Regions from separate parts of the Homo sapiens genome. Here region 2 is linked to region 1. Evidence: fine-mapped expression QTL. A gene starts in region 1. The other region holds a variant in brackets. All regions are shown on one strand. Distances are between the middles of the regions. Region 1 holds the start of GUCA1B (guanylate cyclase activator 1B). Region 2 overlaps MRPS10 (mitochondrial ribosomal protein S10).

Region 1 (5,378 bases):
AAAGAAAGAAACCTGGCCGGGTGCAGTGGCTCATGCCTGTAATTCCAGCACTCTGGGAGGCCGGGGTGGGCAAATCACTTCAGGTCAGGAGTTCGACACCAGTCTGGTCAACATGGTGAAACCCCGTTTCTACTAAAAATACAAAAATTAGCCAGGCATGGGAGTGTGCACCTGTAATCCTAGCTACTCAGGAGGATGAGTCATGAGAATTGCTTGAACTCAGGAGGTGGAGATTGCAGTGAGCTGAGATTGTGCCACTGCACTCTAGCCTGGGCAACATGGCGAGACCTCATCTCTACCAACATAAATAAATAAATAATACAAAAATTAGCAGGCATGGTGGTGCACACCTGTAATCCCAGCTACTTGAGAGGTTGAGGTGGGAGGATCCCTTGAGCCTGGGAAATCAGAGGCCGCAAAGAGCTGAAATCATGCCACTGGGTGACAGAGCGAGACTCTGTCTCAAAAACAAAAAAGAAAATACACACTGAAATACTTAGGGATAAACGGGCATGATATCTATAGCTTTCTCTTAAAAAAAGTATATGTATAAATTATGTATCATGTATATGTATATATACTTATAGGATACATTATATATATGTATGTATACAGAGAGAGGCAGAATGATAAAGTAAATGATATAAAATGTGAATAACTGGGGAAATTTGGATAAATTGCATATGGGAGTTACTTGTATCATTCTTATAACTCTTCTGTAAATTTAGAATCATAGTAAAATTAAAAAGTTATTCAAAAAGGAAAAAACATTGATGAACATCATATGCCGATTTATAAGAAGAGATGAGGTATAAGGAGTACAACTATATGCCTAGGGGCTTAATCAGCCCTTTGGATCTTGAATCATGATCGTATTGATTTTTAGATGAATCTGGGGAAGATTGATGGACTTAAATGAGTCTTATTATTTATGACCTGATATATTTGTTTACTTTTCTTACATTTTAAAAAAACATCAATTATTTTAAAAAGTCATCTTCTCTCTTTAAAAAACCTGCCTTCTAGGCAGGAGCACTTAAGACCTTGGGCAAATCGATTCATTCCCTTTTGCCCAGCTTTCTCATCATTTAATTTGGAATAACAAAAGTCTGCCCCTCCCACCCAGGGTTGCTGCTGATTCAGAGGAGACCTAAGAGAGGCGGAGCGCTGAGAAGTCCGAAACTGGCTCTGTGCCCTGTGGGGTGGTCGATGGGGTTCATCTCTAAGGAGGTTCTGTTGAATTGAAGGTGCTGACCTCACCCTCCTGTCCCGGGACAGGCACTGTGGGGACGTGCACTGACTGGTACCAGCGACAGGATGAGACCTGAAGTGGCATTCCCAGTGATTCAGCTTAGAAAGCTAAGTTCTCCACGCACTGAGGAATGGAGAACTGACACTTTCTTCAGATTAAATTGGTATTTGAGGCAAATACCAGGGCATTTGAGGTATTTGAGGTATTTGAGGATTGCCAGGGCACTGAACTGGATAACCTTAAATAATCAAGGGGTTTTTAACTGAATTGAAATTTAAAATTCAATCCCCTGGTGCATTTACAAGATGTGTTATCTTCTTAGCTGCTAGTGACATTGTGGGCTTAGAGAAACTCTAGTCTGAATGATTTAATGAAACCTTCCAGGACTTGAAGAGCTGAAAGGGGCTTTTGCAGTCATTCGCCCAGTCTCCCAATACATGCAGGAGCCTCTTCCAGCATTCTTGACAGGGAGGATCTGACCAGTCTCAGAAGAACCCCAACAAGAGGGAGCTCATAGCCCATGCTAAGATACCTTGTCTCATTTAGAACATCTCTTTTGCTCCTAGTGTTTAGAGTGACAGGGGCTCTGGCAGATGCGAAAACCCGGTCATTGGGCTGCAGAGTCTTGGTCAAAAATACACAAAGAGAGGACCTGGACTGTCTGCCAGTCGCCCTTCAGCTCTCAAGAAGAGGACACAGGGAGCATCAGCCGACAGCTAAGAGATGGAGGGAGGGAAGGAGAGACAGAGAAGATGGAAAGGGACAAAAGGAAGAGAAGAGACAGAAGGGTTTGGTGAGTGAGACAGAAAAGGTAAAGAGAGACGGAGTGGAAAGAAGAGCAGAGAAAGAGCCGAGGAGTGGGGAACTGGGAGCTCTCCCTGAGGACACTTGTGGAGGAAGGCGCCAGGTGGACTGGCCACTGGTCCTTCCCTTCAGGGTGCCTTACCCCATTCTTGTCGAAGGCTCGGAACATGCCCTCTACATACTGGGAGGCCTCCTCATCGTCTGTGACCTTGAAGAAGCGCTTAAACTCATGCATAAAGAGTGTGCCGCTGGGGCACTCCATCACAAACTTCTTGTACCACTCCTGGAGCTCCGCCACATCTATCTCGCCAGCTGCCTCCGCCTCCTCCCAGCTAAACTCCTGCCCCATGCTAGCCCTGAGGAGCATCAGGGAGCAAGGGTCTGTATCTCCTCCCTGGCTTCTGCTGATGGATCTCTCCAACTAGGGCCCTCTTCCTCCCTTTCCAGGAGGCCTGATCAGCCTCTCCATCATCTCCTGGGTGACTGAACATGATCAGTCGGTGCAGGGGGCAGGTGGCAAGGGAGGTGGGTCCAGGCCAGCTAAGCTGCCCTAAGACTATTAGAAGATTCCCCAGGTGGCCGGGTGCGGTGGCTCATGCCTGTAATCCCAGCACTTTGGGAGGCCGAGGTGGGTGGATCACAAGGTCAGGAGTTCGAGACCAGCCTGGCCAACATGGTGAAATCCTGTCTCTACTAAAAATACAAAAAATTAGCTGGGCATGGTGGTGGGTACCTGTAATCCCAGCTATTCAGGAGGCTGAGGCAGGAGAATCACTTGAACCTGGGAGATAGAGGTTGCAGTGAGCTGCGATCACACCACTGCACTCCAGCCTGGGGGACAGAGTGAGACTCTGTCTCAAAAAAAAAAAAAAAAAAAAAAAAAGAGATTCCCCAGGAAGTTCTGACCTCCAGCCTAAACTCCTCCAGCCTCACTCCTTCCCTTAGCCTTGTCAACAAAGCAACCAAGCTGGCCCTGGTAGACTCTGAAGAGGTAGAAGGGGAAGAAACTGAGAGGTAAGCAGAGAGATGCAGAGTGAAGAAAGAGTCGGGGTGCTAGGCTGGGATCCTCCCATCTCACTCACTCCCTATCTCTTTAGCTGGGCCTCACATTGCTTCAGGGAGGCCCATCTTGGAGACAGGAGACTCAAATCCAGAGAGGAAGTGAGATCAAGTCCTAGGCCATAAAACAGAATCTGCTGGTGATCTGGGACTCGCCCCTCAGACGGTCTAGTGAAAAGAGGCAGAATCTATGATGGGAAGGGCTCTAGGTGAGCAACTCTCTTCCCAGGCTAACTCGGTCCCTGAAGCTCCTTTCCAGATTACACCTTTCATCTTGGGAGCTTTTCACTTTCTGATTTAAACTACAAATGCCTCCCTCCAACCCTTCACACAAGACCTAGGGGTAGTGCCTTTTTCACATTTCCTCCAAAATACTAACATGTGAGAAGGATCTGGGAGCATGGCCTAAAATATCTTTGAAGGCTCTTACTTTTACATTATAGGTCATGTAAAATTTGCTTTTGAACAATTACATATTCATGCTTATTTTAATGTAACATAAAAATGACACCTCCAAGAAATCAAAAGACCAGGGACACACATTTTTCTTTTTCTTTGCTTTTTTTTTTTAAATTTCTATTTTTTGAGACAGGGTCTCGCTCTGTCGCCCAGGCTGGAGTGCAGTGGTGTGATCTCGGCTCACTGCAACTTCCGCCTCCGGGTTCAAGTGATTCTCATGCCTCAGCCTCCCGAGCAGCTGGGATTACAGGTGCACACCACAACACCCAGCTATTTTTTCTTCTTTTTTTTTTTTTTATTATACTTTAAGTTCTAGGGTACATGTGCACAACATACAGGTTTGTTACATAGGTATACATGTGCCATGTTGGTTTGATGCACCCAGCAGCCAGCTAATTTTTGTATTTTTAGTAGAGATGGGGTTTCATCATGTTGGCCAGGCTGGTTTCAAACTCCTGACCTCAAGTGATCCACCCGCCTTGGTCTCCCAAAGTGCTGGGATTATAGGCATGAGCCACCACGCCCAGTGACACTCATTTTTCTAGAAGACTTCAGAGGCAGCAGTTCCAGTGAATCTATCCTTAACCTACCCATCCCTCACTGGGTGTTCAGCCTGAATTGTTTTGCACATCTCCAGGCCTGACCTCCTCTCTCACTGTTCTCTGCCTCCAGACGTCACTGAGCTCTGAAAGCTCTTTTAACTTTCTTGCTATTCCTGAAGGAGAAATGTGATTTCTTCTGTCATCCTTTCAAGTGGTGGTGGGTTTTTCTCCCCCACACACACCTCAAGGTCTAGATAACAGGGCTAGTGTCCTCCTCGCTTCTAACTCTTGCCTCCAAATGGCCTTTTACTTTTTTCTCCCCAAAAAAGGCCAGTCCCTTTGAAGCCACATCTGACTCCTTGCCACTATTTACTTCTCCTCATTACTGTCATTCACTGGTGACTTCCCTGCTTGTCTCAAAGCATCATGTCAGTCATTTCAGTGACTGTGACCTCCAAGTGGATAAACAGCCCATCCCATACACTGGCCTCAAAGGTACTTGATCTCTCTCTCTTTTTTTTTTTTTTTTTTGAAACAGAGTTTTTGCTCTTTTCACCCAGGCTGGAATGCAGTGGTGCGATCTCGGCTCACTGTGAACTCCGCCACCCGGGTTCAAGCGATTCTCCTGCCTCAGCCTCCCTAGTAACTGGAATTACAGGTGCCTGCCACCATGCCCGGCCAATTTTTCTATTTTTAGTAGAGATGGGGTTTCACCATGTTGACCAGGCTGGTTTCGAACTCCTGACCTCAGATGATCTGCTCGCCTTGGCCTCCCAAAGTGCTGGGATTACAGGCATGAGCCACTGCGCCCGGCCCCAGTGAGATGTGTGGGGGTCACACTGCCCTCTTAGTCTCTAATTGCTGGCAACCTGGCATGGTCCCACATGCGTAAGCCACCGGGCCTGGCCTGGTCCTTGATCTCTTTAGTTCCAAAGAGCTTTTCTTCCACCTTACCTAGTACTTCCATTCACTTGTGGTCCCTGAGCCACAAGTGCAGCATCTGGGAGCTTGCTAGAAATGCAATGTCTCAGGCCCCACCTCAGACCTGCTGAATCAGGAACTGTGGGCTGGGGCCAGGAGTCTGTGTTTTAACAAGCCCTCCAGGTGCTTCCAATGCGTACTGAAGTTTGAGGATCACCACCCTAGGCCTTGCTGTCACCAATCTCTACTACCTCTGAAACATTCAAACGCTGCCGTCTGTTATCAGCACCCCACCCCTTCCATCTGTTACTGTAATACCTTCACTCCAATAATTCACTAAT
Region 2 (5,378 bases), 20 kb after region 1:
CTCAATTGAACAACTTCAGAGTTTACTAATAAATGAGGAGAAAAACACTGAGTGACGGCAGTGTTAGCTGAAGTGTCTAGATACTTTCATGTTCAGATCTGGACTATGAGCCTCAGAATCTGTTAAAATACAGTGTAAATGAAAAGAATTTTCAAGGCAACCCACAAAATTACTAAAGGAACTTTCCAACTTAAAATAACGATTCAGCTTCAAATTCACAATGAAAAAGGACTCCAGGGTCTGCTAGTAAAGAGCCTGGGCAGAAGACTTGGATTGAGGATTAAGCTCTGCTAATGGTAGCTGAATGACAACGGACAAATCATATCGTCTCACTGCACATTAGTTTCCTCACATATGAAAGAGGGTAAACCTATGCTATTGCTCATAGTATTTCTCTAAGAAAAAAATAAGAAAACACAGATTAAAGTGCTTATTAATTATAAAACATTATTATACAAAGCCAAGTTAGTTCTATTCATATTTTTTATTAGGTTTTATTCGCGTATGTTTTGTCTGCCCTAATAAACAAATTACTCATTTCTAATTTAAATGATATGACACTGACTATACCTATAACTTCAACCTCTTCCACCCTAATACCTAAAGACCTTAGAAATAATGGGTTTGACATTTTTGACTTTCTTCCAAAAGGTGAATTACCTTCATTTCATTCATCCGTTAAACCAGTAAATTATACTACTAATCCAATGATTCAGAGTTAAATCACTTCACTCCTGAAAGATTTACTTACTAGCCAGAAAGCTAGATATCCACTCTCAATTACTCCAAAAAGGGTTGTTGGAAGAACAGAATATACTGATAGCCTGTGTCCTAAGTTGAGGGATGAGAAGGGGGAATATAGCCTCAAGATGTGTTCTGACTGATCCCTACAGGGTGTTAAAAGATACTTTGAATTTGTTAGGAATATTAAAAATCAGAAGATTTCACAAGAAAATCTGGATTTCAGTTTAGCTTGGAAGATTTAGACAGGCTGGCATCACTAGGTCTGATTTCCCACAGGGCAACAAGTGGCTAGAATAAGTAGCTGCTGTCTTGCTTATAAAGACAGTGGCACACCATGCCAATTCTGCCACCTTTTCTTATAGGCCTGGCTCCTGCAGGCATGTGAGTTGCAGACTGGGGCTTAAATGTACTATCATAGAAATACATCCAGTACTGGCCAGGTGTGGTGGCTCATGCCTGTAATCCCAGCACTTTGGGAGGCTGAGGCAGGCAGATCACTTGAGGCCAGGAATTTGAGACCAGCCTGGCCAACATGGGAAAACCCCATTTCTACTAAGAATACAAAAATTAGCCAGGCATGGTGGTGTGTGCCTGTAATCCCAGCTAGTCGGGAGGCTAAGGCATGAGAACTACTTGAACCCAGGAGGCTGAGGTGAGGTGAGCCGAGATCATGCCACTGCACTCCAGCCTGGGTGACAGAGCGAGACTCTGTCTCAAAATAAATAAATAAATAAATATCCAATATCTATTAAGAGAAAAGTTAGAAAAGAGCAGTAAACTAGACATGTGCACAGACAAAGTGAGTACCTACAGACAAATGTCTAGAACTGTAATCCCAAACTGTTAAAGGGGGTTATTTTTGAGGGGTGGAAATGAAAGGATTTTTAAAAATTACAAGTAACACAAAAAACTGGATTGATGAAATCATAGCTTCTACAGGGTTACCAAGTTCCTTCTAGATGTTTATTATTTGTGCTAACGCATTTTCTCACTGTGAACAATAAAGCACTGTCCAGGCCCAGGCTCAATACACAAAATGAAAACAAAGACTTGAAGGCTACAAGAAAAATACTTTTCCATAACATAAATCAAGTATTCTACATCACAAATTCTGACAACTCTTCCATTATGCCAAGCTAAAAGCAAGAGACTACTAATTAACACAGTTATTTGGGGGTAAATAATTTATTCCTTTAGAACTTACTTTGATACCCTGAAGACAATATAATCCAGGGAGTTAAGAGAATATATGCGTTGTGCATTTGCCAGTATTCTAGGACAAAATTTTTTTATTCATAGAGTGTTTGGGGAAAAAAAACCCAATGAAATAATAAGGAAAACCTATTGCCAAGGTAGCTCCTTATACCAAGAAACAGGGAGTACATACCACAGGTTTGGTCAAATCCTTTGGAACATCAACGTGTAGGTTTGAAAACTGTACCCACTTCATATTGGTACTGCTATGTGTGGGGAAAAAAAGAGAAACCTAAGTAAAATAGCACAAGAACCTATTTTGTTCAATTTAGCACATCCAATTGTATACTTACAGAAGCAAGCCACCATTTTTGGCTGTATTGCCCTTAGAAGTGTTTACAGAAAAATTCCCCAATCCCTAAAGAAAAAAAAAGTAGGACATGTGTTAGAATTAAAGTCAACTACCAAACCATTCATAATTTCCACTAAAAACTAAAAGGTTACCTCATTATTTCAGACGAAGATACTGGGGTAACTAAAATGGCCAAATTAGATTGAAAAAAAAAAGAGGACAATGGTAGAGCTGATGATAAAAAAAAAAGCAGTCTCAAAATACTAGAGAATCTCTATTTTAAAGATTAGGAATAAAAACTTTTTCAAAAAAAACAATTCTCACATTTAAAAAAAGCTATGAATTATGTGGACATCAAGAAAAAATGTGACTTCATTTTCCCATTATTTTTTACAAATTAATTGTACTTCAGTATAATACTTATTTTGCCTGAATATCTTTAAGCAATAAAATATATTGTTTTTATAATTTGTTAAGAGTTGGAATAAAAATTCTGAAGTATCCCTCTTTTGATGCTTTCATACATCTTTTAAAGCATACATATTTCTTAGCTTGGCTGGGATAACTAGCTTATAATGAACTGAAATATGTGCTGTGACTTATACCCATCATTAACTACTGTGCCACATGCTACAACGAACCCACATTTCCAAATCCTTTACCATCAGCTCCCCCTGGTGGAACAAGACTTTCCAGTTTTAGGAAACAAACGATACTACTACATATAACAGCTGTTTTTTCCTTTCAACTTTTCTGAGATTTTGAAGTGTAACCTGAGAAAGTGGAAACACAATAGAATCCTTAAAAACACAATGAAGATGAAAATAAGGCCAGGTGCCGTGGCTCACACCTGTAATCCCAGCACTTTGGGAGGCCAAGGTGGGTGGATCACTTG[T/C]AGTCAGGAGTTCCAGAGCAGCCTGGCCAACATGGTGAAACCCTGTCTCTACTAAAAATACAAAAATTAGCCAGGCATGGTGGCGGTGCGGTTGTGATCCTAGTTACTTGGGAGGCTGAGGCAGGAGAATCGCTTGAACCCGGGAGGCGGAGGTCCAGGCTGGGTGACAGAGCGAGACTCCCTCTCAAAAAAAAAAAAAGAAGTTTAGCATAAGTGAAGTTTCATTAATACAAATGATTGTCACCTAAGTACGTTTTTGTTTGTTTTTTCAGGGTTTTTTTGAGACAAGGTCTCACTCTGTTATCCAGGCTGGAGTGCAGTTGCATGATCATGGCCTGGACCTCCCAGGTTCAGGTGGTCCTCCCACCCCAGTCTCCCAGATAGCTGGGACTACAGGCACGGGCCACCAGGCCCAGCTAATATTTTGTACTTTTGTAGAGATGGGGTTTCACCATATTTCCCAGGCTGGTCTTGAACTCGTGGGCTCAAGCGATCCTCCAGCCTCAGTGTCCCAAAGTGCTGGGATTTCAGGAGTGAACCACCACCTAGCCACGTTTTAAAAGCCTATTCTTAGCTTATTGTCCTTCCTCTCCTTACCCAAGATAGAGACAAATCATAACTCTATAATCTTCTTTGCACCAAAGGGGAAAAGGAAAAAGGAAATCAGGTACAACACAAAGTGGTAAGAGGTATGTGCCATTCTTCAGACAAAATTGCATAGAAAATTCCCTCCCAACAATTACACCAGTGACCCCACAATCGAGTTGTGCAAGAGGAGCAAGAATATTACACTTCTCAGTCACATTCTCCCACTATAAACCTCTGCTTTTTCTTTTCTTTTTTTTTTCTTTTCTTTTTTTTTTTTTTTTTGAGAGAGTCTTGCTCTGTCGCCCAGGCTGGAGTACAGTGGAGCATTCTCAGCTCACTGAAACCTCCGCCTCCTGGGTTCAAGCAAGTCTCCTGCCTTAGCCTCCTGAGTAGGTGGGATTACAGGGGCCCACCGCCACACTCAGCTAATTTTTGTATTTTTAGTAGAGACGGAGTTTTGCCATGTTAGCCAGGATGGTCTTGATCTCCTGATCTCGTGATCCGCCCACCTCGGCCTCCCAAAGTGTAGGGATTACAGGCGTGAGCCACCGTGCCCGGCCAAGAAGTTTTTAAATTGCATTTTTTCTTTGTATTTCTTGAGAGAGAGAGAGAGAGAGAGAGAGAGTGTGTGTGTGTGTGTGTGTGTGTGTGTTGGGGGAGTGGTGGTTTGGAAGGGAGGGCTGTCTGGGTAAATTTGTCTTAATAAAGCAGTTCAAAAATTTCAATCTCTAATACCATCTGACTTTTCTCAAGAACAGTGGTTTTCAGGCCGGGTGCGGTGGCTCAAGGCTGTAATCCCAGCACTTTGGGAGGCCGAGGCTGCCGGATCACTTGAGGTCAGGAGTTCGAGACCAGCCTGACCGACATGGTGAAACCCCGTCTCTGCTAAACATACAAATACTAGCTGGGCATGGTGACGCATGACTGTAATTCCAGCTGCTCGGGAGGCTGAGGTAGGAGAATCACTTGAACCCGGGAGGTGGAGGCTGTAGTGAGCCGAGATCGTGCCATTGCGCTCCAGCTTGGGCGACAAGAGCGAAACTCCGTCTCCAAACAAAAACAAAAACAAAAACGGTGGTCTCAAAGTGTAGTCTGAGGACGTCTGTGGGGTCTGAGACACTTTCAGGGGATCCGGGAAATCAAAACTATTTTCATAAAACCAAAACGTCATTTACAACTTTTCCACTCATTCTCTTACCAGTGTACAGTGAAGTTTTCCCGTGACAGCCTGAGGTGTGATATAGGAAAAGATTAAATACAGAAGCAGATTTGAATCTAGCTTTTATTAAGCCAGAAATTAAAGAGAGCTGCAAAAATGTAAAACATTGCTGCTCCTTACTCAGTTTGTTCAGAAAATATATTTTTCATAAAGTATTAGTTGTAACATGTAATGAGTTAGTGTTACTTTTAAATCAATATATATTCTTAAGTTTTATTTTCCAAAAAGCTAAATATAGATAGCAAAAACCCACAAAAACAAAAGCTCTCTGGAGTCCTGAACTCCGAAAGTGTAAAGTGGTCCCAAGGCCAAAAAGCAGGAGAACCGCTGCTGAAAAGTTTTTGCTCCTCCTGCAAATAACTGCGCAGAGGATATCTAACCCACTT

The links.
Region 2: its variant is fine-mapped to the expression of GUCA1B in whole blood (TOPMed, PIP above 0.99).

The regions. Positions count from the first base shown.
Region 1 is chr6:42,192,416-42,197,793 of GRCh38, forward strand. GUCA1B (guanylate cyclase activator 1B) reads right to left here and starts at 2,541. Exons shown (of 4, transcript NM_002098.6): 1 at 2,199-2,541. The coding sequence starts at 2,405. RefSeq lists a cis regulatory region at 5,032-5,378.
Region 2 is chr6:42,211,989-42,217,366 of GRCh38, forward strand. It overlaps MRPS10 (mitochondrial ribosomal protein S10), which reads right to left. Exons shown (of 7, transcript NM_018141.4): 2 at 2,292-2,356; 3 at 2,132-2,204. Among named protein-coding and RNA genes, the nearest start is that of MRPS10, 3.2 kb to the right of the region's middle. RefSeq lists enhancers at 3,985-4,587, 4,588-5,189. The variant T/C (reference allele first, on the strand shown) is at 3,186.